Regions from separate parts of the Homo sapiens genome. Here regions 1 and 3 are each linked to region 2. Evidence: fine-mapped expression QTL. A gene starts in region 2. Each other region holds a variant in brackets. All regions are shown on one strand. Distances are from middle to middle.

Region 1 (9,872 bases), 33 kb before region 2:
TCACCACATGGAGCTCCTCGAAGGCCTCCTGACAGCACTCGCAGTAGCCTTTCTTCCTCCTGGGCATGGTGTGGGCAGCTGATCGTGGGCTTGGCTCTCCATCCTTGGATTCTCTGGGGAGGGTACATAGTGCGGCAAAGTGGTTACTGCTGGGGCCCTTGGGGGGAGGAGCCACTACTTAGAGCCTGGAGCCTAGGTCAGGGAGGGGAAGGACCAAGATGGCCAAGGGGCTGTGCAGGCACCGGCAGGCAGGCCTTCCCTGAGCTTGGTACCAATCATCTAAGAATGGCAAGAGGGGAACAAGGAAGAAGACGTCTGGAGACCTCCCTGTGGGCAGCCTGTCTTATCTCTGTCCTCTCTCTCTTTTTTTTTTTTTTTTGAGAGAGTCTAGCTTAGTCACCCAGGCTGGAGTGCAGTGGTGCGATCTTGGCTCACTGCAATCTTCACCTCCTGGGCTCAAGCCATTCTCCTGCCTTAGCCTCCAGAGTAGCTGGGATTACAGGCGCCCGCCACAATGCTCAACTCATTTTTGTATTTTCAGTAGAGACGGGGTTTCACCATGTTGGCCAGGTTGGTCTCAAACTCCTGACCTCAGGTGATCCACCTGCCTTGGCCTCCCAAAGTGCTGGGATTACAGGTGTGAGCCACCGCGCCAGCCATCTCCGTCCTTCTCTTAAACGACAGGTGAAGATGGGATGGTGACGGCAGCAGCAAGAATCCCTTGTAGGAATTCCAACTCTGTGCTCAAACCTACACCCACATTCATGAGACCTGAAAGATGAAAGGGAAAAGGTCTCAACCACAGTGAAGGGACTGCTCTTCTTTTCCACCCTGAATGTCTCCCCAGCTTGGTTCAGTCTGTCCCTTCTCTCATGCTGCCTTGGATCTCTCACAGCTGTCCTCACTGTCCGCTAGGATTTTCAAACCTTCCTCAAACCTGACTTCTTTTTTTTTTTTTTTTTTTGAGATGGAGTATCGCTCTGTCACCCAGGCTGGAGTGCAGCAGCATGATTTCGGCTCACTGCAACCTCCACCTCCTGGGTTCAAGTGATTCTCTTGTCTCAGCCTCCCGAATAGCTGGGATTACAGGAACACACCACCACGCCTGGCTAATTTTCTTTCTTTTTTTTTTTTTTTTTTTTGTATTTTTAGTAGAGACAGGGTTTCACCATGTTGCCCAGGCTGGTCTCAAACTCCCGACCTCAGGTGATCTGCCCACCTCAGCCTCCCAAAATGCTGGGATTACAGGACTGAGTCACCACATCCGGCCAAGCCTGAATTCTTATCTGAATATCAGCCCCATATTTCTAACAACCAAAGGGCATTTCTATCTGGCTGTCCAGCAAACTCGACAAGTCCAAAACACTCCTTTTAAAGACTTCCTAAGTATGACACAAACCCCAGAAGATATACAGAAAAACTCATAAATTCAGCTATATACAACTTTAAAATATGTATGCATGGCAAAGAATCATTAGCAAATGATATGGTTAGGCTTTGTGTCCCCACCCAAATCTCATATTGAATTGTAATCCCTATAATCCCCAAGTGTCAATGGAGAGACCAGGTGGAGATAACTGAATCAGGTGGTTTCCCCCATGCTATTCTCGTGACAGTTCTCATGAGATGTGATGCTTTTGTAAGGGGCTCTTCCCCCTTCACTCAGCACTTATCCCTCCTGCCACCTTGTGGAGAAGGTGCCTTGCTTCCCCTTTGCCTTCCATCATGATTGTAAGTTTCCTGAGGCCTCCCCAGCCATGCTGAACTGTGAGTCTATTAAACCTCTTTCCTTTACAAATTACCCAGTCTCAGACAGGTCTGTATAGCAGTATGAAAATGGACTAATATAGCAGAGTTAAAAGACAAACCACAAACTTGGGGTTTTCTTGTCTTTTAAAAGTATTTACAACTTCTCTGCTCAGGGAGGCTTAGGAAAAAAATATATATATTGATTTATTTACAACTGCCAGGTACAGTGGCTCACACTTATAATCCCTGCACTTTGGGAGGTCAAGGTGGGAGGATCACTTGGGCGCAGGAGTTCGAGACCAGCCTGGGCAACATGGTGAAACCCCACCTCTACAAAAAATATAAAAATTAGCCAGGTGTGGTGGTGCACACCTGTACTCCCAGTTACTTGGGAGGCTGAGATGGGAGGATTGCCTGAGCCTGGGAGGTGGAGGTTGCAGTGACCAGAGAAAAGAAAATATTTACAACTAATAACAAAGAGCTCATTTTTCTAATATGAGAAGGGCTCCTTACAAATCATTAAAGTGATCAATAACCAAATAAAAAATGGGCAAAGTATAAAAAGAAGGTTCACATAAAAAGAGATTCAAACAACCAAACATATGCAAACTTACTTAGCCTCATTCATAGTAAGAAAAAACAAAAATTATAATTATACTGAGATACAGTTTTTAATCTGTTATACTGGAGGTCAGCATATCTGCCAGTCACAGCATGAGGCAAGGGGATGGGAAACAGCCTCTCTCATGCAGTGTAGGTAAACATATAAGTTGGTATCCGCTCCATGAAAAGCCATTTGGCTGAATTTATCAAAATTATAAATGCATATATCTTTTAACCCAATATTTCTACCTTTAGGAATTTATTCCACAAATGAGCAATTGCAAATTTACTCTGAACATGATTTTCATTGGAGCTAATCTAAGCATCCATGAATAACAGACTGGTTAAATAAAATACAGTAAATACATTCCATACAATGGAATAATGGATACCCTGCAGCCATAAAAGGGAATGCAATTTTTTTTTTTTTTTTGAGACAGGGTCTACTCTGTCACCCAGGCTGTTGTGCAGATTCACCACCTTGGCTCACTGCAACCTCTGCTTCCCATGCTTAAGCAATTCCCCAGCCTCAGCCTCCTGAGTAGCTTAGACTACAGGCTTGCACCACCATGCCTGGCTAATTTTTGTATTTTTAATAGAGGTGGGGTTTCACCATGTTGCTCAGGCTGGTCTCAAACTCGTGAGCTCAAGTGATCCACCTGCCTCAGTCTTCCAAAGTGCTAGGATTACAAGTATAAGCCACTGTGTCTGGCCAGATTTTTTAAAAATATAAAAATAGAGATGGGCGGGGGGGGGGGGGGGTGGTCTCATTATGTTGCCCAGGCTGGTCTCGAACTCCTGGCCTCAAAGTGATCCTTCCCCCTTGGCCTCCCAAAGTGCTGGGATTACAGGTGTGGTCTATCTCCAGAGATAGTTCATGGATATATAGGTACATGTGTATCCTTCGTTCCCTCTTCTTACATAAAGAATCATATAGGCTGGGTGTGGTGGCCCACACCTGTAATCCCAGCATTTTGGGAGGCTGAGGTGGGTGGATCACGAGGTCAGGAGTTCAAGACCAGTTGGCCAACATAGTGAAACCCCATCTGTACTAAAAACACAAACAATTAGCCGGGCGAGGTGGTGTGCACTGTAATCCCAACCACTCAGGAGGCTGAGGGAGGAGAATCGCGTGAACCTGGGAGGCGGAGGTTGCAGTGAGCAGAGATCACGCCACTGCACTCCTGCCTAGGCAACAGTGTGGGACTCATTCTCAAAAAAAAAAAAAAAAAAAAAGAATCATACAGTATTGACTATGCTGGATGTTACTTGCTTTTTCTTTTCATGCTGCCCCAGGCTGCACTCTCCATTTGGCAGGGGTGAGGCACCACTCGGATCTCCTCCAGCCTCTACCCCTGGGAGGAAGGTTGCACCAGTGAGGGGATAGAACTGGAGGCTGGGTGTGGAATATAGACTTTTCACATTAAACCATTTGTAACACAAATTTTAAACTTTTTAAATTTAAAAATTTTTAAACTTTAAAATATAATAATGATTTCAAAAATGTAAAAATTTAAACACTTCTTCCTACACATATTTTCCACATACACACGTGCCTGGAACTTTGATGTCCCACCAGGGCCAACTCCCTGCCTAGGCGCCTCACATGCAGATACCAAAGCTTCATTGCTTCATCTTCCCTTTACAGCCTCTTAGCTCCTCTGTGATCCCAAGGCCATCCCAGGCCTAGCATCACTGCCAGCGCCAAGCCTGGGCCACCTTCTGACTGGCTCTCCCTGGTATCCCTTGTATTGGGACTTAACCTCACCTCTTTCTCTCTTTGCTCCCATTTCATCTACTGCCACATTCCCTTAATTTTTTCCCTCCTATTTGTACTATTTTCTTACCCACAGCCTTTGTCAGCTGATGGAAACCACAGAGCCTCCTTGGCCCCAGGAACTCCAGGGCTGAGAGTCTGCTCTGTTCTCTCCTGGTCTATAACCCCACAGCCCAGAGGTTAGAAAGGGTCTGAGAAGGCATCTCACCCATCACCTGAGCTGAATTCCTTCTCTACTTTGGTTAATGAGGGTTCAAATTCTCAAACATCTGCAGAGTAGAAACATTAACAAGCCCACAAGCCATGAGCCACGTAATGCAGCGATCTTCTCCCCCGCCCCGCCCCTTAGTTATTCCTGATGTTTGGCCCAACCAGTTTAAACTTTGATATTCACTGAAATCACATGAGAGCTTGTAAAATGCAGCTTTTGGGGCTCCATCATCAGATATTTTGATTCTATAGATATGGGGTGGAGTTTAGGAACCTGCATCAGGGTTTCACTCTGTCACCCAGGCTGGAGTGCAGTGGCACAATCATAGCTTACTGCAACCTTGAACTCCTGGGCTCAAATGATTGTCCTGCCTTAGCCATCTGAGTAAGTGGGACTACAGGCACTTGTCATCACGCTTGACTAATTTTTTTTTTTTTTTTTTTTTTGAGAAGGAGTCTCGCTCTATCACCCAGGCTGAAGTACAGTGGCGCAATCTCAGCTCACTACAACCTCCGCCTGCCGGGTTCAAGCCATTCTCCTGCCTCAGCCTCCCAAGTAGCTGGGATTACAGGTGTGCACCACAATGCCTGGCTAATTTTTTTTTTGTTGCATTTTTAGTAGAGAAGGGGTTTCACCATATTGGCCAGGCTTGTCTCAAACTCCTGACCTGAAGTGATCCGCCCCCTTAGCCTCCCAAAGTGCTGGAATTACGGGCATGAGCCACTCTGCCTGACTCATAATTTTTTACATTTTTATTTTTATTTTTTGTAGAGGCAGAGTCTTGCTATGTTTGTGTGCCCAAGTTGGTCTCAAACTCCTGGCCTCATGTGATCCTCCCACTTTGGCATCTCAAAGTGCTGAGATTACAGGCATCAGCCACTGTGCCCAGCTAGAACTTGTATTTTTAATTAAAGAGACCCCAGGGGACTCTGATAATGGTGGTCTATAGATATGAGTTTGAGAAAGCGGTCTATTGTCTTCTGTGTATACTCGGTAAACCCTGCCGAGTGAGGTAACTGCTGGGTGCACCATGTCTGGTTGCAATGGTCCATGCTCTGGGGGAAACAGTGCAGGCCAGGGGTTCTGGGCGGACAGGGTAAGAGTGCTGTATCTCAGCAGTGAATTAACAAATAGGTCTTCTTCGACCCTTAAGGAGAAGGGGGTGCCCTTCACAACCCTGGCACCTCCCTTTCTTCTTCAAGTTAAATTCTTCAGTACGGATGAAGAACACAAAATAAAATGGATGAACGCTCCTAGTCTCTCTTCTCTGGGCTACGTTCCCAGAATAGACTTTGCCTAAGGAGCAAACACATGGCCATTCCCAAATCTGACCAGCAGGCCCCCGATGGGGAGGACTTTGGCCTGTAACCAGCCCTTGGTACTCAGGAACCAGAAAGACCCACCTGGTATGGTGCATGCTGCCCAGGGTCGTCGGGGCCTCAAAGGGACTTGCATCTTTGGGTCCAAGAAAAGAAATTTCAGGAAAGGATTTAAACTGATGATGGAAAGGACGAAACTTCCTGCAACAGAGAAAACTTCCACTTTGACTACAATGGGGAAGGTAAAGGCTGAGGAGGGGGCCTCGCCCAATGCCCTAGAATTCCAGCCCTGATAAAGTGGACTCTCACCTCCACATCTTTTAAATTCTATAACAAAACTCATCAGCCTTTCTAGGTTAAATTAATACATATGTTCTCCCTGTCTACTTTTCTTTTTTTTTTTTGAGACAGAGTCTCGCTGTCGCCCAGGCTGGAGTGCAGTGGCGCGATCTCGGCTCACTGCAAGCTCCGCCTCCCAGGTTCACACCATTCTCCTGCCTCAGCCTCCCGAGTAGCTGGGACTACAGGCGTCCGCCACCATGGCCGGCTAATTTTTTGTATTTTTAGTAGAGACGGGGTTTCACTGTGTTAGCCAGGATGGTCTCGATCTCCTGACCTTGTGATCTGCCCACCTCAGCCTCCCAAAGTGCTGGGATTACAGGCGTGAGCCACCACGCCCGGCCCCTCCCTGTCTACTTTTCAAACTCATACCACTGCCTCCCTGGAATCCTATAAGCACCCTCTGGGCTTATCCTATTTTATATCTAAGGAAATGAAGCCCAAGAGGTTCTGTGACTTGCTCAAGGGCTCACAAATAGTTAAGCAGCCAAGGTCAGATCAGAAGCCACATCTCCAGACTCCTGATCTACTTTTCCCCACCTTCCCATTTGTTTCTTGACCCTACAACAATCTTTGAGGACTCTAGCCTGGCAGATTCTAAATGGAAGAATGTTTAAACCAGAACAGTTATTT[C/T]CCTGTTCTGTGAAGTGTTCTTGCTGGTCCTTAGAACTATCTGAGGGCTGGGTTCTGAAAGGAGAAGACAGGCACAGTGAAGGTTCTGGATAGTCAGACCTGGACTGAGTGGTTCTGGCAGTGTGCCTCAAGTTGCAAACATTTAAGAGATTTGCAGAGACAGAAGTGATCTGTGTATACTTCGCAAACCCTGCCAAGTGAGGTAACTGCCGGGTGCACCATGTTTGGTTGCAATGGTCCATGTTCTGGGGGAAACAGTGCAAGCCAGGGGTTCTCAGGGAGCAGGGTAAGAGTACTGTAGCTCAGCAGTGAATTAACAAATAAGTCTTCTTGGACCCTTAAGGAGAAGGGGGTACCCCTCACAACCCTGGCATGTTTCTTTCTTCTTCAATGATATTGTTTCTGCTTAGGGGGCTTGAAACTTGAGGATGGGCAGGCTAATAGGCCTAATAGGCTTTGAATGCACCTGCTTCAAAACAGCACATAAAAAAAAAATCACAAGAGGCTGGGCACTGTGGCTCCCACCTGTAATTCCAGCACTTTGGGAGGCCAAGGCAGGTGGATCACCTGAGGCCAGTTTGTGATCAGCCAGGCCAACATGGCCAAACCCCGTCTCTACAAAAAATACAAAAATTAGCTGGGCGTGGTGGTGAACACCTTTAGTCCCAGCTACTCGGGAGGCAGAAGAATCGCTTGAATCTGGGAGGCAGGGGTTGCAGTGAGCCGAGATTGTGCCACCGCACTCCAGCCTAGGTGATGGAGTGAGACTCCGTCTCAAAAAAAAAAAAATTTCACAAGAAATCTCAGCTCCAGTTGGATCTCCTCTCTGGCCTATAATGCCAGGAATATGTGTACCCCTCTCTGGTGACAGTGATATACCTGTGCCTGCCATGTGCAGTGCAGATACTGAGGCTGTAACAGTGCCTTTCAGCCGTTGCATATGTGTCATGATTACCTACATTTAAATAGGTGTGAAGGGGCTGGGGATGAACACGCAATCCATCCCACTGGAACTGGAAGACAGCACCTCTGTACCATCCCATTGTTCTCTCCACTTGCCTTTGGGCCACCAAAGCCAGCGCAGCACTGTCTGCAGGTGCTGAGAAGTGACCCTGGGCTTGTCTGGAGGATGGGCAGGCATGCCAGGCTCCTAGGGCTGGTCTCAGCTGCCCTGCCCTTCCCTGTCTGAGGCACACAGACAATTCTGTCCTCAGTAGTCTCTGCTGGATACACATGGACTTATTTCCTTTAAAAAATTTATTTAGTCTGAAAATGCCTTTTTGGAAAAAATATTAAAAACAAAAATTTAAATTTTGAGATAATTATAGATTCACATACACTTTCGATCTTGTACTTACTGAAGATTCAGTGATAACCAACATGGCTGCTAATAGCTCATTAGGTTAACATTGTCATGGGACCCTCCTGCTCCGAGGGAAGAGGAGATCATAATGGTGGACAGAGAAGACACAAGACAGGGTAGGCAGGACACCTGGATTCTAGCCTTAGGCTGCAATTTATTAGCAAGGTGGCTGTACACAAGTCCCTTCCTTTCTCTGACCTCAGTTTTCCCCATTAGGAAGAGATGGGCTCTCCTCATGCTTTTTTCACCCAGGGCTGTCAGGAGGTAACATGAGCCAGAAAACGATTTTCAAAGTGAAACAGAAAGGCTTTATCAAGTACAGGGTGGCCTGACAAGGGAATCCCCAGTACCACCCCTAGCACCCTAATTTCAGCCAAGATGATGTCTTGGACTATACTAGCACTGTGACTGGGTAATGATTTGACATGAAATGTCAGCATACACCCAAGGGGAAAGGAGTTGCAATAATGAGCCTGCATGGGACACCATGAGCTCATAGAGCAGAGTATTAAATGGAGGTAATTCACACACAGGATCATTAACCTCTGACTCATCTCCAAGAGGACTATTCACTGTATAATGCCACTCTGAGGCTCCTCCTGGTTTGCATGAGACTTCTCCATGACAATGGGAGAAAGTGGCTTCTCAGGAAGATGAAGGTGCAGGGTTAAGGGGCTCCATGTCTTCACATTAGCTTGAGGCCCCTGAGCACCCCTCCCTCCTCCCTCCTCTGTGCAGGCCTAGCTGGGGCAAGCAGAGAAAGGAGGTCCCACTCACCTGCTTTCATCTTCGATTTTGAGGAACGGGGCCTTCAGTCTGGCCACTGAAAGGGGAAGAATGCACACATCAGCTATCTGTCTGCCCCTGTGCAGGGCCTGCACCACACATGCAGGAAATGCTGAGAGGGAAGGCTCTGCCAAAGCCTAAGAGCCTTGCAAGAGCTGGAAATCATGCCACCCCAGGCTGCGCTCTCCATTCACTCAGATCTCCAGCCTCTACCCCTGGGAGAAAGGTTGCACCAGTGGGGGGATAGGCTGCAGTTAACACTGAAGCCCTAGATGGGCCCTTCCTCTGCAGGACGCAGGAGCTCCTGTGTGTGGATTCTGGAGGCTATCGACCAACCAAAGATGCCACCACCATCAGACACCTGGCTGGTTTGGTGGGAGAAACCCAGCCCCTGATGGCTTCTGCTAAAAGCAGGGTGGGGGTGGTCATTCCCACAAAGTCCCAGGTCCTTCCTAGCCCTTTGCTTCTGGAGCCTCAGGATACTGAGGGGCCTAAGATCAACTCCCAGGCAGAATGCTCCAGGAGGACCCTGGGTTTTTTGGAGGGGAAGCAGAGAGGAAGAGGGATAAAGAGTGTTTAGTGGTCTTATTAGCAGGATGGTAGAAAAATATCACAGGTAAAATCTGATTCCTGAAAAAATAGGGCAAAGGAGTGCTGAGAAGATGAATTTGGAGTCAATTAAGAGACTCACCCCTATTAGATAGTTATTCGCATAGCTTACAAAATCCCTTAGGCATCAGGACCCACAGTGACCAGGAGTCCTGTCGAAGGGGCAGCCAAGGCAGCTGAAATCCTGGGCCCATCTGACAGCCATAAATTCCCCAAAGACGCTGGCACCTTACAGCTCCCAACTGTACTTGAGGCCACCAGTAGCACCCAAGCAAAAAGCAGCCTTTTCTCCTTTAGCAGCAGCTCTCATTAATTACTTTTTGGGGACAATTTCTTGTCTTTCTAATTAACTGAGACAGTTATTAAAATCAATTCCCCTACAGACTTCCTTGAATTTTGAGCATGAGAGAGGTGCCAAGTGACTTTTCTTAGCTCCTGCTTGTGCATGAATAAATGCCACTGAAAGAGCATCTTTGGGAGAAA
Region 2 (9,872 bases):
GTAATGGCCTCCAGCTCCATCCAAGTTGCTGCAGAACTTATTTTGTTCCTTTTTATGGCTAAGTAGTATTCCATGGTGTAAAAAATATAGAATTTAAAATACAGGAGATCCAACACAGGAAAGAGGCAAAAAGAATTCCACAGAATAACGAGGGGAGATCGGAGGATGAAATCAGTGCAATAGGCCTAGTACACAGCCAGGCCAGACTGGAGTACTAAAACGCTATGTCTCCAAGACAAATTGACAGATCCTCTGATGAGCTTGAAAGTATTGAGAGAAGGCCCATACTCTGGTGAAGAGTTTGGACCTGAATTAGTGATCCATACATAAAAAAACAAAGAAAATCTCCTAGCTTATTATATAGCTCAGTGATGAATAATGTTTTGTTTGTTTGTTTTTTTGAGACGGAATCTTTCTCTGTCGCCCAAGCTGGAGTGCAGCGGCATGATCTCGGCTCACTACACCTCTGCCTCCCGGGTTCAAGTGATTCTCCTGCCTCAGTCTCCCAAGTAGCTGGGATTACAAGCGTGCACGACATCCTACTGATTTTTGTATTTTTAGTAGAGACAGGGTTTCACCATGTTGGCCAGGCTGGTCTCAAACTCCTAACCTCAGGTAATCCACCTGCCTCAGCCTCCCAAAGTGCTGGGATTACAGGTATGAGCCACCGCGCCCGGCCGAATAATGTTTACATAATGAAAATAATGTCGGCGGGGCGTGGTGGCTCACACCTGTAATCCCAGCACTTTGGGAGGCGGAGGCAGGTGGATCACGAGGTCAGGAGATGAAGACCATACAGGCTAACACAGTGAAACCCCATCTCTACTAAAAAAAACCAAAAAATTAGCCGGGCCTGGTCGTGGGTGCCTGTAGTCCCAGCGACTCCAGAGGCTGAGGCAGAAGAATGGCATGAACCCGGGAGGCGGAGCTTGTAGTGAGCCCAGATCACGCCACTGCACTCCAGCCTGGGCGACAGAGCAAGACTCTGTCTCAAAAAAAAAAAAAAAAAAAAAAAGTCAATACAAATGACTAAATCAAAATTACTACATATATACTGGGGAGATAAAAGGAAAGGTGGGAAATGCATGTGCGTTTGTGTGTGGTGCAGAGAAGTGGTAGGACAGAAAAAATCTTTATTGTCCATAGAAGACAGTCAATAGATATAATTCAAAATTGACTGGGCATGGTGGCTCACGCCTGTAATTCCATCACTTTGGGAGGCCGAGGTGGGCAGATCACTTGAGCCCAAGAGTTCAAGACCAGCCTGGGCAACACAGTGAGACCCCATCTCTATAAAAAAAAAAGAAGACAGGCCGGGTGTGGTGGCTCACACCTGTAATCCCAGCACTTTGGGAGGCTGAGGAGGGCAGATCGTGAGGTCAGGCAATCGAGACCATCCTGGCTAACATGGTAAAACCCCATCTCTACTAAAAATACAAAAAATTTGGCTGGGCGTGGTGGCTCATGCCTGTAATCCCAGCACTTTGGGAGTCTGAGACGGGTGGATCACGAGACCAGGAGATCAAGACCATCCTAGCTAACACAGTGAAACCCCATCTCTACTAAAAAGACAAAAAATTAGCCAGTCATGGTGGCACGTGCCTGTAGTCCCAGCTACTTGGGAGGCTGAGGCAGGAGAATCGCTTGAACCCAGGAGGCAGAGGTTGCAGTGAGCCGAGATGATTGTGCCACTGCACTCCAGCCTGATGAGAGTGAGACCGTCTCAAAAAAAAAAAAAAAAAAAAAAAGAAGACATAATTCAAAATGGAAAACAATTAAAACAGTATGAGCATATTATTACAGAAATAAGGTGGTAGCTTCTAGAAGAAATAGTTAAAAGCTGTAAATGGCTGTTTCTTAGGAAGTGGGAATCAGACAGCCTGAAAGGGGATTAACTCTCATGCCTCCTGTTTTTTGTGAGAAACTTTGGCTTTTTTTTTTTTTTCTTTTTTGAGATGGAGTTTCATTCTTGTTGCCCAGGCTGGAGTGCAATGGCACAGTCTCGGCTCACTGCAACCTCCACCTCCTGGGTTCAAGCAATTCTCCTGCTTCAGCCTCCCAAGTAGCTGGGATTATAGGAGCCTGCCACCACGCCAGCTAATTTTTTTTTTTTTTGAGACAGAGTCTTGCTCTGTCGCCCAGGCTGGAGTGCAGTGGTGCAATTTTGCTCACTGCAAGCTCCGCCTCCCGGGTTCACGCCATTCTCCTGCCTCAGCCTCCCGAGTAGCTGGGACTACAGGTGCCTGCCACCACGCCCGGCTAATTTTTTGTATTTTTAGTAGAGATGGGGTTTCACCATGGTCTCAATCTCCTGACCTCGTGATCCCCCTGCCTCGGCCTCCCAAAGTGCTGGGATTACAGGTGTCAGCTACCACGCCCGGCTCTGTTTTTTGTATTTTTAGTAGAGACAGGGTTTCACCACGTTGCCCAGGCTGGTCTTGAACTCCTGATCTCAGGTGATCCGCCTGCCTTGGCCTCCCAAAGTGCTGGGATTACAAGTGTGAGCCACCACACATGGCCTGCCTTTTAAGCTATGTCAAGAATCAAACAGGAAGCCAGGTGTGGAGACATGCACCTGAAGACATAGCTACTTGGGAGACTGAGGCAGGAGATTGGGAGACTGAGGCAGGAGAATTGCTTGCACCCAGGGCTTTGAGGCTGCAGTGAGCTATGATTGTGCCACTGTACTCTAGCCTGGGTAACAGAGCAAGTTCTTGTCTCTAAAATAAAATAATAATTTAAAAAAATTTAAAGAATCAATCTGGAGGCCAGGTGTGGTGGCTCACGCCTATAATCCCAGTATTTTGGGAGGCTGAAGCAGGTGGATCATGAGGTCGGGAGTTCAAGACTAGCCTGACCAACATGGTGGAACCCTGTCTCTAGTGAAAATACAAAAATTAGCCGGGCATGGTGGCGTGCTCCTGTAATCCCAGCTACTCAGGAGACTGAGGCAAAAGAATTGCTTGAATTCTGGAGGCAGAGGTTGCAGTGAGCCGAGATGGTGCCACTGCACTCCAGCCTGGGCGACAAAGCGAGACTCTGTCTCAAAAAAAAAAAAAAAAAAAAAAAAAAATCAAACTGGAATAAAAACGAAAATAAAAACCCTCTAAAATCCACACATTATCATCTTATAGTAAATTTTAAGAACAAATATAAAAATGTATAATCTAAAATATTGGGCTGGGTGCAGTGGCTCACTCCTGTAATCCCAACACTTTGGGAAGCTGAGGAGGGTGATCGCTTGAGCCCAGGAGTTGAAGACCGGCCTGGGCAACATGGCAAAACCTCGTCTCTACAAAACAAACAACAAAAAAAAATTAGCTGGGCGTGGTGTTGAGTGCCTGCAGTCCCAGCTACCTGGGAGTCTGAGGTGGGAGGATCACTTGATCCCGGTGAGGCCAAACCTGCAGTGAGCCATGATTGCTCCACTGCACTCCAGCCTGGGTGCAAGACCTCAAAATAAATAAAATAAAACATTTTTTTCTTTCATCAATATAATCCATAGGTTCACATAATCTAAAACATCTAATGAGAAAAGGAGGTCACTTACAAAGCAGCAAGAATAAAAAAGAAATGCTGAAGAAAACAAGGAGAAAATACTGTAATTTTTCAATGTGTTGAAGGAAAAAAAATTGACTTAAATTTTACTACAAGGCTGAAATAAATATATTCTTAGTTTATCACACAAAGCCTCCTTTTGAAAACACTCTTGAAGTTCTCCAGAGAAACAGAAGGGGGAAAAAAAACCAACAAGAGATGGGAAGAATGAATAACTCAGTAAATGAAGTGGATTACTGTTTAAAAGGCAACAAGCCGATGGCATATCTGTTAACAATCCAGAAGTAAAAGTAGACGGTATTTTTTTTTTCTTTTTTTTGAGACGGAGTCTCGCTCGGTCGCCCAGGTTGGAGTGCAGTGGCGCAATCTCGGCTCGCTGCAACCTCCGCCTCCTGGGTTCAATCAATTTTCCTGCCTCAGCCTCCTGAGTAGCTGGGACTACAGGCACGCCTCACCACGCCCGCCTAATTTTTTGTATTTTTAGTAGAGATGGGGTTTCACTGTGTTAGCCAGGATGGTCTCAATCTCCTGACCTCGTGATCCGCCCGCCTTGGCCTCCCAAAGTGCTGGGATTACAGGCGTGAGCAGCCGCGCCCGGCCAACTAGATGATATTAACTAAAGGGGCAGTACGGAGGGAAGTGCCATGTGCTAAAATACTTACCTAATTAGGTAGCAGTGTTTAACTTAAGGATTTTATTGTAAACAACTATGAATGTATTAATTTATATATTTAATAAGTCACTCTATCCTGACTCCACATCTGTCTGTTAATCTTGTTCATAATATGACTCTTACTTGACCTTTATCATGAATCCCAAAACGGTCTATGATGCTGCGTCCATACACACACACACATAAAACCACTAAGTGGGCCTGGTGAAGTGGCTCACACCTGTAATCCCAGCATTTTGGGAGGCCTAGGCAGGAGAACTGCTTGAGGCCAGGAGTTTGAGACCAGCTTGGCCAACACAGCAAGACCCCATCCCAATAAATAAAATGAATAAATAAGTACATAAAAACACTGAGTGATCGAAAACTCCAACAGGGGGAACATTTTTCGGTCTTCTCCAAGAGACCCTGGGGCAATTTTCACCTCACGTCCCTAGTTCTGTCCTGTTACCCACCTAGGTCCGGGGCCCGGAGCCTACTCTCAGCCATGGAACTCTCCAGCTCGAGGCAATCGTCTCCTGAGAAAGGACATAACAGCAACTCAACCATCTTCACCAACCCTTGGAACTTCCATGCCTCCCGCCCACTACTGTCTCCCAAAACGCGCACAGAAACGCGACTCCTGGGAACAGCAAGACTCAACTCCATTCCGACCTACATCCCGCGACTCCCGCCAGGCTCTTGCCCCTCATGCCCTCCGCCTCCTTTCAGACTCCGTTCAGTCAACGGCCGTGACCTCTTGGCCACCTCCTGTCCATCTCAATCTCCATACATCCCTCCAGGCTGTTGTCCCCTACGTTCCTCTGCCACCTTCATTCCTCGGTCCCCTCAACTCCTGTGGCTCCTTCCCGGCCCCTATACCCTCCTCAGCTTCGGCACCTACCCGCTGGTCACTTCCTAAGCCCCCTCCACGACTCCGCACCTCGCCTCAGCTATTAACGACCCCTTCCGCCTTTCTTTCTCCCCTTCCCGGCATCCGTACCCTTTCCCGGTTCGCTCATCAAATGCCGGCTCCTTCTCGGCCTCCGTACTCCTTCCTCAGAGGCCTCCGTATTACATTCGCGAGCTCCATGAGCTCTTCCCGATTCCACAGTCCTGGTTATCTCAGGGCAGCTACAGCATCAATCTCTTGGCGTTTTCGGCCGCGGCTTCAGTTTAAATTTCCTGCCGGCTCCACCCCTAAAAGAACGCCGTAGCTGCGAGATCCGCCCTACGGTGTCCTTGGAAGGACAATATTAGTTTCGCGATTCCTCTTTCCGTTCCCCCACCGCCTACGTCTTCTCAAACCGTCTCTTCATTTCTTGGCTCTTCACTGGCTAGACGGCTTTGCCCCTTAATGGCCCTCAAGTTGAGGACTAGTGGTCGCTTTTTAGTGATTCTTCACACTGAGCTGCATTGAAATTCCTAGAAGTTTGAATACTAAATAACAAAATAAGCCTAACACTTGCAGAGCATTTGCAGTTTACATAAAGATTTCACTTACACATCATTTCATCTTCACATTTTTGTCCCCCTCCCGTTCTTCAATTATTACCTGCCCAACAAAACTTCTCAAAAGACGTATCTTTATCCCTCACTTCCCATCTTTTCTTCAACCCATCTAATTAGACTGCTAATTAGAGATCAAATTTGATCTAATAAGAGATCATTCAGTGGAGAGCTGGGGACCTCCCCACAAAAACTGTACTTATCCAGGTCAACTGTGATTTCCACAGTCTGAAATACTATCCTTATCATATCCAACTTATAGATGGACTATTCCTTCTTTGAAATACTTTCTTCTTTTTGCTTCCATGACTCAGCACTCTACCGTTTTTTTCCCTATCTCAATGGTTCCTCCTCAGTCCCCTTTGCTGGATCCAAAGCCACTGTTCACCTATATATTTTGGAGTATGCCAACGCTTTAGCCCTTATCCCTCTCCCTTATCTCCCTAGGAGATCTCATCCAGCTCCACAGCTTTACAATTCAGCTCTGCCACACCTTCAGATTTTCTGTAGCTCTGACCTGTCTGATCTCCAGACTCACATATTCAAGTGCCTACTGGCTATTTCAATTTGGATGTCTAATAGGCACCTCAGGCTGAACACATTCAAAACAGAACATTTGTTTCGCTGCCCCTGTCAAAAAACCACCTGTTCTCCCCCCAGGTCTTCCCCTCTCAGTAAAATGTTACTGTTTACTCAAATGTCACAATCATTCACCCAGTTGCTCAAACCAAAAACCTAGAAGTTGTCTTTCAGTACTTTCCCTTGTGCCCATCCCCACTCCAAGAAAAAAATCCTACTAACTCTGCCTCCAAAGTACATCTGGAATCAGACCACCACCACCCTAGTTCAAGCTGCTATCATTTCTTGCCTAAAGTACTGCGGTCAATTCTTCACTTCTACTCCCGAGTAGCTTCCTATCTCTCCCCAGTATAATCCATTCTCCATTCAGCAACCAGAGTGATAGTTTTTATATTTATTTATTTTTTTATTGAGAGGGAGTCTCGCTCTGTCGCCCAGGCTGGAGTGCAGTGGCGCAATCTTGGCTCACTGCAACCTTTGCCTCCCGGGTTCAGGCCATTCTCCTGCCTCAGCCTCCCGAGTAGCTGGGATTACAGGTGCCTGCCACCATGCCCGGCTAATTTTTGTATTTTAGTAGAGTCGGGGTTTCACCAGGTTGGCCAGGCTGGTCTCGAACTCCTGACCTCAGGTGATTCATCCGCCTCGGCCTCCCAAAGTGCTGAGATTACAGGTGTGAGCCACCGCGCCTGGCCCAGGGTGATATTTTTTAAACACTGGTAGAGGTATATACAGTACATAAACTTGGTATCTCTTCCAGTGGGACTCCTCCCTGAGGAAGCTTATACATCTCAGCCCTGATGAACGAACGAAGCCTTGGCCATATGACTTGCTTTGGCTCATGAAAAAAGAAAAAAGTGACATCACTTCCAAGCAGAAACTTTAAGAGGCAAGATGGTTCAGCATGTTCTTTTTTCACATGTGTGACAGAATTTGTATAATAAAGGTATCTGCCTCAGCATTGTTTGCAATACCAAAAGATCAAAAGCAACGAAAATATTGATTAACAACGGGCAGTAGGTTAAATAAATTATGGTGTAGTCATACTGTGCAACACTATGCAACTCCAAAAAATGAAAATACTTTAAAATATAAATGTATTTAGGGAATCCTAGCCAGAGCAATCAGCAAGAAAAAGAAACAAAAGGCATCCAAATAGGTAAAGAGAAAATCAAATTATCTCTGCTTACTGATGATATGATTCTATAGCTAGAAAACCATGAGGACTCCACCAAAAGGCTCCTAGACCCAATAAATTACTTTAATAAAATTTTAGGATTAAAAAAAAGTCAACACACAAAAATCAGTAGCATTTCTATACACCAATAACGTTCAAGCTGAGAGCCAAATCAAGAATGTGATCTCATGTACAACAGCCACACACACAGGCTGGGCATGTTGGCTCACACCTGTAATCCCAGCACTTTGGGAGGCTGAGGAGGGTGGATCACTTGAGGCCAGGAGTTCGAGACCAGCCTGGCCAACATGGTGAAACCCCATCTCCACTAAAAATACAAAAATTAGCCTGGAGTGATGGTGTGCAACTGTAATCCCAGCTATTCAGGTGGCTGAGGCACAAGGATCACTTGAGCCCAGGAGGCGAAGATTGCAGTGAGCCAAGCTCACACCACTGCATTCCAGCCTGGGTGACGAGACTCTGTCAAAAAAAAAAAAAAAAAAAGCGCCAGCCGGGCATGGTGGCTCACACCTGTAATCCCAGTACTTTGGGAGGCCGAGGCGGGCAGATCACGAGGTCAGGAGATCGAGACCATCCTGGCTAACATGGTGAAACCCCGTCTCTACTAAAAATACAAAAAATTAGCCAGGTGTGGTGGCTGGTGCCTGTAGTCCCAGTTACTTGGGAGGCTGAGGCAGGAGAATGGCATGAACCCGGGAGGCAGAGCTTGCAGTAAGACGAGATCACCCCACTGCACTCCAGCCTGGGCAACAGAACGAGACTCTGTCTCATTAAAAAAAAAAGAGCCACACACACAAAACAATCCCTAGGAATACATCTCACCAAGGAGGTGAAAGATCTCTACAAGAACTATAAAACACTGCTGCTGAAAGAAATAATAAAAGACACAAACGAATAGAAAAACATTCCATGATCATGGATTGGAAGAGTCAATATCATTAGAATGTCCATACTGCCCAAAACAATCTACAGATTCAGTGCTATTCCTATCAAATTACCAATGTAATTTTTCACAGAATCAGAAAAAAAAACTATTCTAAAATGCATATAGAATGAAAAAAAGAGCCTGAATCGCCAAAGCAATCCTAAGCTAAAAGAACAAAGCCAGAGGCATTACATTACCTGACTTCAAACTAAACAAGGCTACAGTAACCAAAACAGCATGGTAGTGGCATAAAAATAGACACATAGACCAATGGAACAGAATAAAGAACCCAAAAATAAAGCTGTACACCTATGAGTAATGGGGAAAGGACTCCCTGTTCAATAAATGATGCTGGGAAAACTGGTTAACCATATGCAGAAGAATGAAACTGGACCCCTACCTCTTACCATATACAAAAATTAACTCAAGGTGGATGAAAGACTTAAATGTAAGACATCAAACTAAAAATTCTGGAACAAAACCTAGGAAATACTGTCTAGATATCAGCCTGAGTCCTCAAAAGCAATTACGACAAAAAAAAAAAAAATTGACAACTGGCACCTAATTAAACTAAAGAGCTTCCAAAGCACAGCAAAAGAAACTATCAATGAAGTAAACAACCTACAGAATGGGAGAACATATTTGCAAACTATGCATCTGACAAAGGACTAATATCCAGAATCTATAAGGAACTTAAATAAATCAACGACAACAAAAAAACCTAATTAAAAAGTGGGCAAAGGCCAGATGCAGGGGCTCATGCCTGTAATCTCAACACTTTGGGAGGCCAAGGTAGGAGGCTTTACTTGAGCTCAGGAGTTCAAGGTCAGCCTGGGCAAAATAGGGAGGCCCATCTATATAAAAATTTTTTTAAATTAGCTAGGCCTGGTGGCATATGCCTGCAGCCCCAGCTACTTGGGAGGCTGAGGTAGGAGGATCACCTGGGCCAGAAGGTCAAGTCTGCAGTGAGCCAAGATCATGCCACTGCACTCCAGCCTGAACGACAGACCAAGACCTTGTCTCAAAAAAAAAAAAAAAAAAAAAGGCAAAAACATGAGCAGACATATCTTAAAAAAAGACATACAAGTGGCAACAAACATGAAAAAATGCTTAATATCATTGATCATCAGAGAAATGTAAATTAAAACCACAATGAGATACCATCTCATACCAGTCAGAATGGCTACTATTAAAAAGCCAAAAGATAATAAATGTTGGCCAGTCTATGGAGAAAAGGTAATGCTTATATACTGTTGGTGAGAATGTAAATTAGTTCAGCCCCTGTGGAAAGCAGTGTGATTTCTCAAAGAACTAAAAATAGAACTATCATGTGACCCAGCAATCCCATTACTTGGTATATACCCAAAGGAAAATAAACCATTCTACCAAAAGGACACCTGCACTATGTTTATTACCACACTATTCACAGTAGCAAAGACATAGAAACAACCTAGGTA
Region 3 (9,872 bases), 47 kb before region 2:
CAGTCGGGCAGACCATCAGTTCCCCCACAGTGTAACCACGGGGTGCACAGTTCACAGGTAGGGAGTGACACCAGGCAAGACAGCCAGACTCAGCGGCCAGGACACCCCATCCCCGGCCCTAGGACTGCACACCTCCCAGGGAGCCTGGGCAGTTGCTGAAGGCAGCTTCCACCCCCCACCCCACCCCCAGTGACTGCGGGCCTTGGACCATTAGCCCCCTCCCCCTGCCCCTCTGCACGGCCCTGAGTGATGGTCCATCTATTATGCATGCTCCCTTCCTGCTCCATCCATTTCATCAGTATTCTCCACCCCTGCACCACCCCGCATCCCCCTCTGCTCCCCTCCCTTAAGGGCTTTTAACCAAGTACATTAGGCAGGGCCAGATGCCAGTCTGACAGATGTCCGTAATGTTAGCCTCCGTTTCCCTCCTTCCTCCCTCTGCCCAGCCCAATTTACCTCCCACCACTCCCCGCTGCCAAAACTTCCCAGGCCTCAGTTGTACCCCTCTTCTGGGTCTCCCCCCTATACCTCCTGTTTGTGCCGGGCCTTTGCCAGCCAACCTGCCCTCTGCTGCCCTGTTGGCCTGGCTCACTTTCAGCTCCAGCTCTTGGAGCGCTGGGGTGTGCTGAATGAATATTCCATCTGGGTGATTATTATTCACATGATATTAATTAATTATTAATTGCAATTAATCTCCTTCATGCCTAACCTTCCTCTGGGAGGCAGGAGGGGCCTGGCAGCTGAAAGGGACAGTGGGCAGGCAGGTAGAGCTGGCTTGGGGCCTCAAGTTATTTTCCAAGGCCCCACCTTCAGCCAGGACAGGAAGAACAACAAGCCTATCTGGGCACTGTGTGGAAACTGAGGCAGGAGCAAGCACTAAGTTGTTCCAAGAAAGCCCACTAAGGTGGCTGTGGTGAGAACCTGAGAGCCCTAATCCCTGACTGGAATCTGGGCTGCCTCTCCCTGCCCCCAACTTGCCCCATCCAAGCCCTGTTTTGAACAGAACAACTAGCTTTGGCCAGAGCAGAGCAGGGGGCCATTGGAAGGCTGACCCAAAGCAGACCTGAGACCTAGGCATTAGTGGTCCCTGTACACTGAGGGCAGGGGACCCTACAATAATGGAAGGGGGCCCTGGGGCTGGGCAGGCCTGGTGCTCCCCACCAGTGGGCTCCAGCACCCACCGGATAGCCCACTGTACAGAAGGGGACCCTGCGGGGCAGCTGCTGAGGGGGACTCCAACCCTGGTTACCCCGTGGGCTTCCTGGGGCTCTGAGGCCTGCTTCAGCCCCTGGCCTCACCACCCAGCCCCACTCACCGGGCCCCCTGGTGGCTCCTGGCGGACCCTTGTGTCCAGCTGCTGCTTTCGGACCTCTCCCCCGGAGCTCTCCCTAACCAGACGGCTGGGTTCCGTGACCTCAGGGGCTCCTGGGCCTCCCAGCTGGGGTAAGCCCCCCCATCGCAGAGCTCCAGCAGGACCTTGGGTCCCAAGACCTGGGGAAACAAGGCCATGGCTGCAGGCAGCTGCCCACCCTGGGGCAGAAGACTTGGGAATGGGGTGGGCATGCCTCATCCCCCACTCTGGTGTGGCCCCTGGAGCCCTAGGGCGATCCGGGTGGGAGGATCTGGCTGCCCTGCAGAGGCAAGAGCCCGCGGGGAGGGGGCCAGGAGCTTCACTCCCGCCCAACCGTCACGACTGCCCCCCCATCCGCCCAAACCCGCAGAGACCTGCAGAGCTGGCCGGTCGGCGGCAGGGGCAGGGACGCGGTGGGCCCGGCCAGCTGGGGACAGGTGGGTGGACGCACCTTCCCTCCTCTCCCGCTCCCCTACCCTCCCGCGCTCCGGACCGGCTGTCACCCCGAGCACTGCAGGAAAAGGTGGCTGCAGCAGCAAGCGCCGCACATCCCGGGGCGGGGGCAGGGAGGGGGCGCCGGGGCCGGGCGGGGGTCACTCACCGGGCGTGGGGAGCAGCGACAGCAGCAGAGCCGCGAACGCCCAGCGCCGCAGCAGCCTCATGGCTCGCTCATTCCTCCCGGTCCGGGGGCTGCGGCTGCCAGCGGCGCGGGGAGGGCGGGAGCAGGGACGGGGGTGGGGAGGCGCCAGCTGCGGAGCCGGGGCGGGGGCGCGGGGCCGGGCGGGGGTCGCGGAGAGGTGGGGGCGGCAGGGACGGCGCCGGGGCTCAGCGCGCTCCGGCCGCGGCCATCCCGGCGGGGCGGCGGGGCCGGGTTAAGAGCTGAGCAGCGAGCACGTGAGCCCAGGGCCCGCCCTCCGCTCTCCCGCCGCCCCCCGGCCCCCCCAGCCCCGCAGGGCCCGGGCCGCCGCCGCGGCAGGACAAAAGAGGCGCCGCCCCGGGGTCCCTCCTCGCACCTCGAAGTCTCCTCGGCAGGTGCGGGGCGGTGGCGCTCCGCGTACTTATCCCGCGGCCTCTCCTCGGCCACCTCTGCCTGAGCATCTCCGAGGACTCGTAGATTTGTAGGGGAGGGAAGCAGGGGACGGGGTACCCCCGGGGTCGACCCGGCGACTGCCTGTCTGGGGCCCGGGGGCAGGGGCGTGGCTGCGGCGCCCACGTTCGCCCCTCTGTCGTGGTACCCCAGAGAGGCTGCCCCAGCCCCAGCTTGGAGCGCCCCGCTTGACCCCAGGCTGTGGAAGCTGGGGTTGGGGTGGGCAAAGGCTCTTGGCGAACGCCGGGCTCTACGCCTCTGGGATTTCTTGCACCTTCGCTACGGGTCGTGTCACTGCGGAGTCCTCTCACGCCCGCGGTACAGACCCCTTCCCATCGGCTCCTTCTCCCCGCCAAAGATGCCCCGGCCTCCAGGAGGGCTTCAGGGATCGCTGTCACTCCAACCATCAGGAAGGGCTGGCATGTCCGTCTGGGTTCCTGAGTCTCTCACAGGCGTCCTGTCCTTCCTCCTAGATAAAATATAAACTAGCCAGGTCACTTATATGCTGCTAGCATGCCCCATGGCTCCCCCTCCCTTGCTAGTCCCAATCCTTAGGAGCAGAAGACACCTCTGGAGCCCCCCAGCATTCCCTCTCTGGTCAGACTAGGCTGCCCTGTCTGCAAAATACTTGACCTCCCAACCTACATTCCCAGCTGTGCCCTCCACCCAGCTCCTGGGGATGTTGGGTCCCAATACCAGGGCTGGGACCTCAGACTTCTGCTAGGGGTGCTGAAGGCCAGATACCTGAGATGGTGTGGGGTGTGGTAGGGCATGGTGGGTGGGCCGCTGAGTCCCCACCCTGACCTTTTTGGTACCCATGCTAGGGGACCACAGGTTGCTGAAGAACAAGATTGGAGGCAGGAAACCCCTTCCTGGGTCCTCTGCTTCCGCAAGGACCCAGGGCCTCTGCTGGGGATGAGGGAACTGCCTCTAGCTTGTGACACCCCCACCCCCCGCTCTATTTTAGGCCCAGGAGAGGTGAGAAGGCGATTTCCCAGGAGGCGCTGACATCAATGTAGGGAACCAAGTGACTCCCCCCACCCCCAACCACCTGCCATGCCAGGCCCAGATGCTCAGTAAGGCTGAGCCAATTCTTCCTTCGCTCTGGAGACATCTTGAGAACCTCCTCCAAGATGTAGGCATGAGGAGGCTCCTGGGAATGAGGGCCTACTAGGTGGTATTCCTGGAAACTCATCATGAGCCCAGAGGGAGAGATTGTGCTCCCCATTTTACAGATGGGGAAACTGAGGCTCTGAGAGGTTATGTGAGCTTCTCAAAGTCACACAGCTGGTGAAAGGCACATCCCATACTCCATGGCCCCACTCCTCTTAGCCACCCCTAGTCCTACTTCCATCTCTGCCCTCCATTTGGGACCAGAGGGGACTGGTATATCTGGTCCCATGCACCCTCACCACACACCCCAGACACGAAGGTGGCTGTCCTGCTCCAGCCTGCCCATGTCCCAGGGCCACATCAGCAAGTCCCGATCAGGAGTGCCCCCCAGTAGGCTGGGTGAGGTTTGTCATTTCACAGTGCGAGCCCGGGGCTGGGAGAGTCTGGGTCCTCCAACATGTTCAAGACCACAGAGCAAGCCCAATCTGTGGTCCAGGCCTCTTCACCAGAGGCATGTTCCTACCACATCGGTGGCCCTGGGACCCTAGACTTCCTGTTGGGGAGACCTGATGAGCCCTAAGAGTGACTCTCCCTGGTGGCACCCTGGGCTAGTTCCAGTGGAGACTCGGTCATATGGCTCCCTGGCCCCCATAGCCACTTATATTCCTGGGTTCCCCGGCTCCCAGCAGATCTGGCTAGAACTTACTTTTTTTTTTTTTTTTTTTTTGAGACAGAGTCTGGCTCTGTCGCCCAGGCTGGAGTGCAGTGGCACGATCTCGGCTCACTGCAAGCTCCGCCTCCCGGGTTCACGCCATTCTCCTGCCTCAGCCTCCTGAATAGTTGGGACTACAGGTGCTCGCCACCACGCCCAGCTATTTTTTTTTTTTTTTTGTATTTTTAGTAG[C/T]GACGGGGTTTCACATGTTAGCCAGCATGGTCTCGATCTCCTGGCCTCGTGATCCACCCGCCTCGGCCTCCCAAAGTGCTGAGATTACAGGCGTGAGCCACCGCACCCGGCTAGAACTTACTATTTTTTTTTTTTCTTTTGGAGAGTCTCGCTCTGTCACCCAGGCTGGAGTAAAGTGGCAAGATCGCGGCTCACTTCAACCTCCACCTCTGGGGTCAAGTGATTCTCTTGCCTCAGCCTCCCGAGCAGCTAGGACAACAGGCATGTGTCACCATACCTGGCTAATTTTTTGTATTTTTAGTAGAGATGGGATCTCACCATGTTGCCCGGGCTGTTCTCACCCTCCTAAATTCACCATGTTGTCCAGGCTGTCCTCAACCTCCTAAATTCAGGCAATCTGCCTGCCTCCCAAAGTGCTAGGATTACAGGTGTGAGCCACCATGCCTGGCCTAGAACTTTCTTTTTTTTTTTTTTTGAGATTGAGTTTCGCTCTTTTTTTTTTTTTGAGATGGAGTCTCGCTGTGTCACCCAGGCTGGAGTGCAGTGGCGCCATCTCGGCTCACTGCAAGCTCCGCCTCCCGGGTTCATGCCATTCTCCTGCCTCAGTCTCCCGAGTAGCTGGGACTACAGGTGCCCAACACCATGCCCAGCTAATTTTTTTGTGTTTTTAGTAGAGACGGGGTTTCACTGTGTTAGCCAGGATAGTCTCGATCTCCTGACCTCGTGATCCACCCGCCTCGGCCTCCCAGGGTGCTGGTGGGATTACAGGGTGAGCCACCACCCCCAGCTGGAGTTTCGCTCTTGTTGCAATGGCATGATCTCGGCTCACCGCAACCTCCACCTCCCAGGTTCAAGCAATTCTCCTGCCTCAGCCTCCCGAGTAGCTGGGATTACAGACATGTGCCACCATGCCCAGCTAATTTTGTATTTTTAGTAGAGATGTGGTTTCTCCATGTTGGTCAGGCTGGTCTCGAACTCCTGACTTCAGGTGATCCACCCACCTCGGCCTCCTAAAGTGCTGGGATTACAGGCGTGAGCCCACCGCACCCAGCCGATCTTTTTTTTTTTTTTTTTTTTTTTTTTTGAGATGGGAGTCTCACTCTGTTGCTTAGGCTGGAGTGCAGTGGCATGATCTCGGCTCACTGCAATCTCCTTCTCCTGGGTTCAAGTGACTCTCCTGCCTCAGCCTCCCAAGTAGCTGGGATTACAGGTGTGCACCACCACGCCTGGCTAATTTTTGTATTATTAGTAGAGATGGGGTTTCGCCATGTTGGTCAGGCTGTTCTCAAACTCCTGGCCTCAAGCAATCTGCCTGCTTCAGCCTCCCAAAGTGCTGGGATTGCAGGCAATAGACCTTATTTTTTAATTTTTTGAGGGTCTCGCTCTGTTGCCCAGGCTGGAGAACAGTGGCACAATCATAGCTTCCTGTAACCTTGACCTCTTGGGCTCAAGTCATCTCCTGCCTCAGCCTCCTGAGTAGCAGGGACTACAGGTGGCGTCACCAAGCTTGGCTTTTTTTTTTTTTTTTTTTTTCAGACGGAGTCTTGTTCTGTTGCCCAGGCTGGAGTGCAATGGTATGACCTCGGCTCACTGCAACCTCCTCCTCCCACCGGGTTCCAGCAATTCTCCTGCCTCAGCCTCTCAAGTAGCTGGGATTACAGGTGTGCTCCACCATGTCTGGCTAATTTTTGTATTTTTAGTAGAGATGGGGTTTCACCATGTTGGCCAGGCTGGTCTTGAACTCCTGACCTCAAGTGATCTGCCCACCTTGGCCTCCCAAAGTGCTGGGATTACAGGTGTGAGCCACCGTGCCCAGCACTTTTGTATTTTTTGTAGAGATTGGGTTTCATCATGTTGTCCTGGCTGTTCTCAACACCTGGACTCAAGAGCCATTCAAGGCCAGGCGTGGTGGCTCAAGCTTGTAATCCCAGCACTTTGGGATGCTGAGGCGGGTGGATCACGAGGTCAGGAGATCGAGACCATCCTGGCTAACACGGTGAAACCCTGTCTCAACTAAAAATACAAAAAATTAGCCAGGCGTGGTGGTGGGCGCCTGTAGTCCCAGCTACTCGGGAGGCTGAGGCAGGAGAATGGGGTGAACCTGGGAGGCAGAGCAGCCTCCCAAAGTGCTGGGATTACCAGGCATGAGGCCGATGCTTGGCTAACAAAATTTCTTTTTGTAGAGACGGGGGTCTTTTTATGTTGCCCAGGCCAGTCTCGAACTCTTGAACTCAAGTGATCCTCCAGCCTCAGCCTCCCAAAGTGCTGGGATTAGATTACATCTGTGAACCCTGGCACCCGGCCTCGGCTAGACCTCTTGCCTCTCCCTTGATCACAGTCCCCAGTCCCTGAGGTTCCACCTCCCCTGTCTCATGCTTGCCTCAGCTCTCTTAGGAGCTGTGGGATCCCCACACAGAAAGCTTGCTTCACGTTCTTTCACCCACCGTCCCTCCTGAGGTCAGGGCTGTCTGTTTTCTCATTGGTGGCCCTTCATCAGACTGGGACTTCAGAAGAGCAGGGCTTGTCCTCCTCATCAGACCTGACCCTGATAGCAAGGGCTGTTTTCTGCTTAGATCGGGGCAGGCCTGTGTCTCCCCCTCAAACATAGGGTTCCCTGGGGGGCCCCACCTCAACTTCATAGCTATGGCTGGCTCCTTCGGTCCATCCATTGAGGCTGGGGCCACTATTTCTGCTGCCCTGATGCCACTCTTGGGGTTGCTCTTGCTGAGGGAGCTGTGGGGCCCTGAGGGGTGGGTCTCTGGCCTCCCTTAGGAAGCCCCTTCCCTAGGAGGCCGGAGCCTCCTTCCTTCTGCTGCTCTTCTAGCTCTTTAGCCGGTTCTCTCAAATTTTCCTGCATAAGGGCCAAGTTGGGGATGCAGGGCCAAGACCTTGTCTCCGCAACTCCAGGTAAGGGAGAGGTCCTGGTTGCCCCCAGCCCTGGGGTGATACCACCGGCAGTGATTCCTGCCAGTGGAGGCCGTCCAGGCCTGGTGACCAGCCTTAAGTCCTGCAGCACAGACCATGCTAGTCAAGGGGGCAGGATTCAGGTCTCCAGGCTGGGGTCCCAATCCTGCCTCCCCCACAAACTGGCTGTGTGACCTTGAGCAAGCCCGCTGGCCTCTCTGGGCCTTGGTTTCCTCATCCACGACACAGGGGTTAGAAAACCACCCCCCTCACAGTGCTCCTCTCGGGGATGATGGCTGAGCTGCCCATGCTTGGAGCAGCGTCTGGCACATGAAAGGGGCTCAGTCACCCTGGGCTCGCACCGTCCAAGGCGCCGAGGAGCAAACCGGCTCCCTGGCCCTTGCCCAGGACCCCAGGCCTCTCTATGGCTTGGGGTCCTCGGGGTCCTCTCTCTACCCAGCACAGAGAGAACCTGTGCCTGATGTCGTGATGTGGAGGGGTGGCAGCAGGGGAAGTGCCTAGCATTTGGACAGGAAGTTCATCCTGCTTCCTCTTAGATGCCAGCCCAGGGTCCAAGGACCGTTCTTCTCATCTGCATAGCTCTCCCGGGAAACCTCATGCTCCTCCCTCTCAGGCGTCCAAGTGGCCCCTCTTTTAATCTCTGAAGCTCTCAGGCTTCACCAAGGGAGGAGTTGGGGGCACCTGGGGCACCAGGATCCCAGGCACACTCATCCTTTGGGAGGTCTGTGGGGCACAAATACAGTCACACCCATAAGGGCCCAAGTGCCACTTCTTTTCCACAAAAGGGATCCTCCTGGAGCTCAGGAGAGGGCCCTTGGGAGGGGGCCTGGGACAGGGGGTCTCACAGTGCCCCTCAGCAGCTTCATCCACAAATGCTCACCCGAGATGAGGACGCCAGTTACCAAGGGACACTGCCAGGTGGGAATTAGTGAGAATAAGCTTTATGTAAGTTTAGGAGGGAGGCCTCACAGGCATGTGTGCCTGTGGGTAATATGTTATTTGTTGAGACAATGTGCCAAGCTCTGTGCCACATACCTCACAAACACATCTGATTTCACTCTTGTGATTTCCTAGCGAGGTAGCAACTATGATTATCTCCATTTTTCGTATTTATTTATTTATTTATTTATTTTCGAGACAGTCTCGCCCTGTTGCCCAGGCTGGAGTGCAGTGGCACAATCTCGGCTCACTGCAACCTCTGCCTCCCAGGTTCAAGTGATTCTCCTGCCTCAGCCTCCCGAGTAGCTGGGATTACAGGCATGCCAGCATGCCCGGCTAACTTTTGTATTTTTAGTAGAGATGGGGTTTCACTATGTTGGCCAGGCTGGTCTCGAACTCCTGACCTCAAATGATCCGCCCGCCTCAGCCTCCCAAAGTGCAGGGATTACAGGCGTGAGCCACCGTGCCCAGCCTAGATTACCTCCATTTTTTAGATCAAGAAAACAGTTTGAGCTGGGCACAGCTGAAACTCCCCTGGGAAGGGGAGCCAAGATCCAGGATGAGAAGGAGTGCTCGGGTATACAGCACTCCTGCTGGTGGCAGGATAGGGAAAGACATAAAAGATTTGCTGGCAGTCACAGTATTTTATTATTGGAAAGGGTCCTGAAATCATCTCATCCAAGCCCCTTACTTAAAGACGAGGAAACTGAGGCCCGAGTAATAAAGGCATTTTTCTGAGGTCACAGTGAGTTGGAGGCAGCTAGCTCCTGCATTCCACCCAGCAGAAGGGAGTTGGGGTGGAGCTACCAATCGGTCACATCTGCCGAGAAGTGAAAGGCTCAGCGAGAAGAGGCAAGAACAAAGGCCTGGGGACCTAGTCTGAGTAAAGTAGTTAGGGCTGGAGGGCTCTTCAGGTGTCTCGGAGCTGACTCAGGGCAGACGGCAAGGCCTGTGCTGAATGAACGAACGAGGGAATGGGCAATGGTGAGGAAGGGCAGGGGGACAGGAGAACCAGGCCACTGAGGGGCTGCTGCGACCAAGGGAGCCAGGCTTCAAGGAGGAAAGAAAGGAGAAAAGGAACCAACTTTGGTCACCAGTAGCCTGTCCATGACCTTGGAATAGATGATCTTAGTGGAATGCTTCAGGCAGAGCTACCCAGGAAGGAAGTGTGGAAGGGAAGGAGGTGAAGAGGAGGCGGTAGGTATAGACCGCAGGAAGGAGCCAGAGAACAGAAGGTGGGAGCCTTCAAGTATTTGAAGTCGATTTACTGAATCAACTCAAGTGTTTTCCAGGAGAGGAGCATGGCATTTTGGGGCAGAGGGGAAAGGTGGCAAGTCTGAGAAGGAAACCAACAAGAGTGGTTGGCGAGGTGGGCTGGAGGGCCAGGGACAGACAGTGTGACTTGTGGAGGGAGGACACCTCTTCAGAAAGAAACGGCAACATGTTGAAAAGGGACTGACTGCAAGATAAGGCAATGCCCACTGGGTCTGGGTAAAAGTCATCTGGTGCGATGTGGAAAGGGGGCTGGAGTGGAAAGGAGTCTGAGCAGTGCT

Which allele goes with the higher level. Alleles are on the strand shown, and positions count from the first base shown. SD is a standard deviation of normalised expression in the study named. Not every link is listed here.
In carriers of allele T in region 3, the expression in coronary artery of the gene that starts at base 5,385 in region 2 tends to be lower than with C alone (large effect, 0.90 SD a copy in GTEx).

The links. PIP is the estimated chance that this variant, and not a neighbour inherited with it, causes the effect. A credible set is the group of variants that fine-mapping cannot tell apart.
Region 1: its variant is the best candidate, but not a certain one, in a credible set for the expression of DBF4B in subcutaneous fat (GTEx, PIP 0.72).
Region 3: its variant is the best candidate, but not a certain one, in a credible set for the expression of DBF4B in coronary artery (GTEx, PIP 0.53).

The regions. Positions count from the first base shown.
Region 1 is chr17:44,737,324-44,747,195 of GRCh38, reverse strand. It overlaps DBF4B (DBF4B-CDC7 kinase regulatory subunit), which reads right to left. Exons shown (of 14, transcript NM_145663.3): 9 at 8,772-8,817; 10 at 5,744-5,860; 11 at 5-113. LOC107985044 (a long non-coding RNA gene) reads left to right here and starts at 6,289. Exons shown (of 3, transcript XR_001752906.1): 1 at 6,289-6,833; 2 at 9,773-9,872. The variant C/T (reference allele first, on the strand shown) is at 6,632.
Region 2 is chr17:44,704,178-44,714,049 of GRCh38, reverse strand. DBF4B (DBF4B-CDC7 kinase regulatory subunit) reads right to left here and starts at 5,385. Exons shown (of 14, transcript NM_145663.3): 1 at 5,211-5,385; 2 at 4,684-4,746. The coding sequence starts at 5,229. RefSeq lists enhancers at 4,551-5,064, 5,065-5,579.
Region 3 is chr17:44,751,341-44,761,212 of GRCh38, reverse strand. It overlaps ADAM11 (ADAM metallopeptidase domain 11), which reads right to left and starts at 2,225. Exons shown (of 27, transcript NM_002390.6): 1 at 1,953-2,225; 2 at 1,316-1,491. The coding sequence starts at 2,013. It overlaps DBF4B (DBF4B-CDC7 kinase regulatory subunit), which reads right to left. Exons shown (of 14, transcript NM_145663.3): 14 at 8,949-9,872. RefSeq lists enhancers at 2,033-2,584, 7,653-8,153. The variant C/T (reference allele first, on the strand shown) is at 4,456.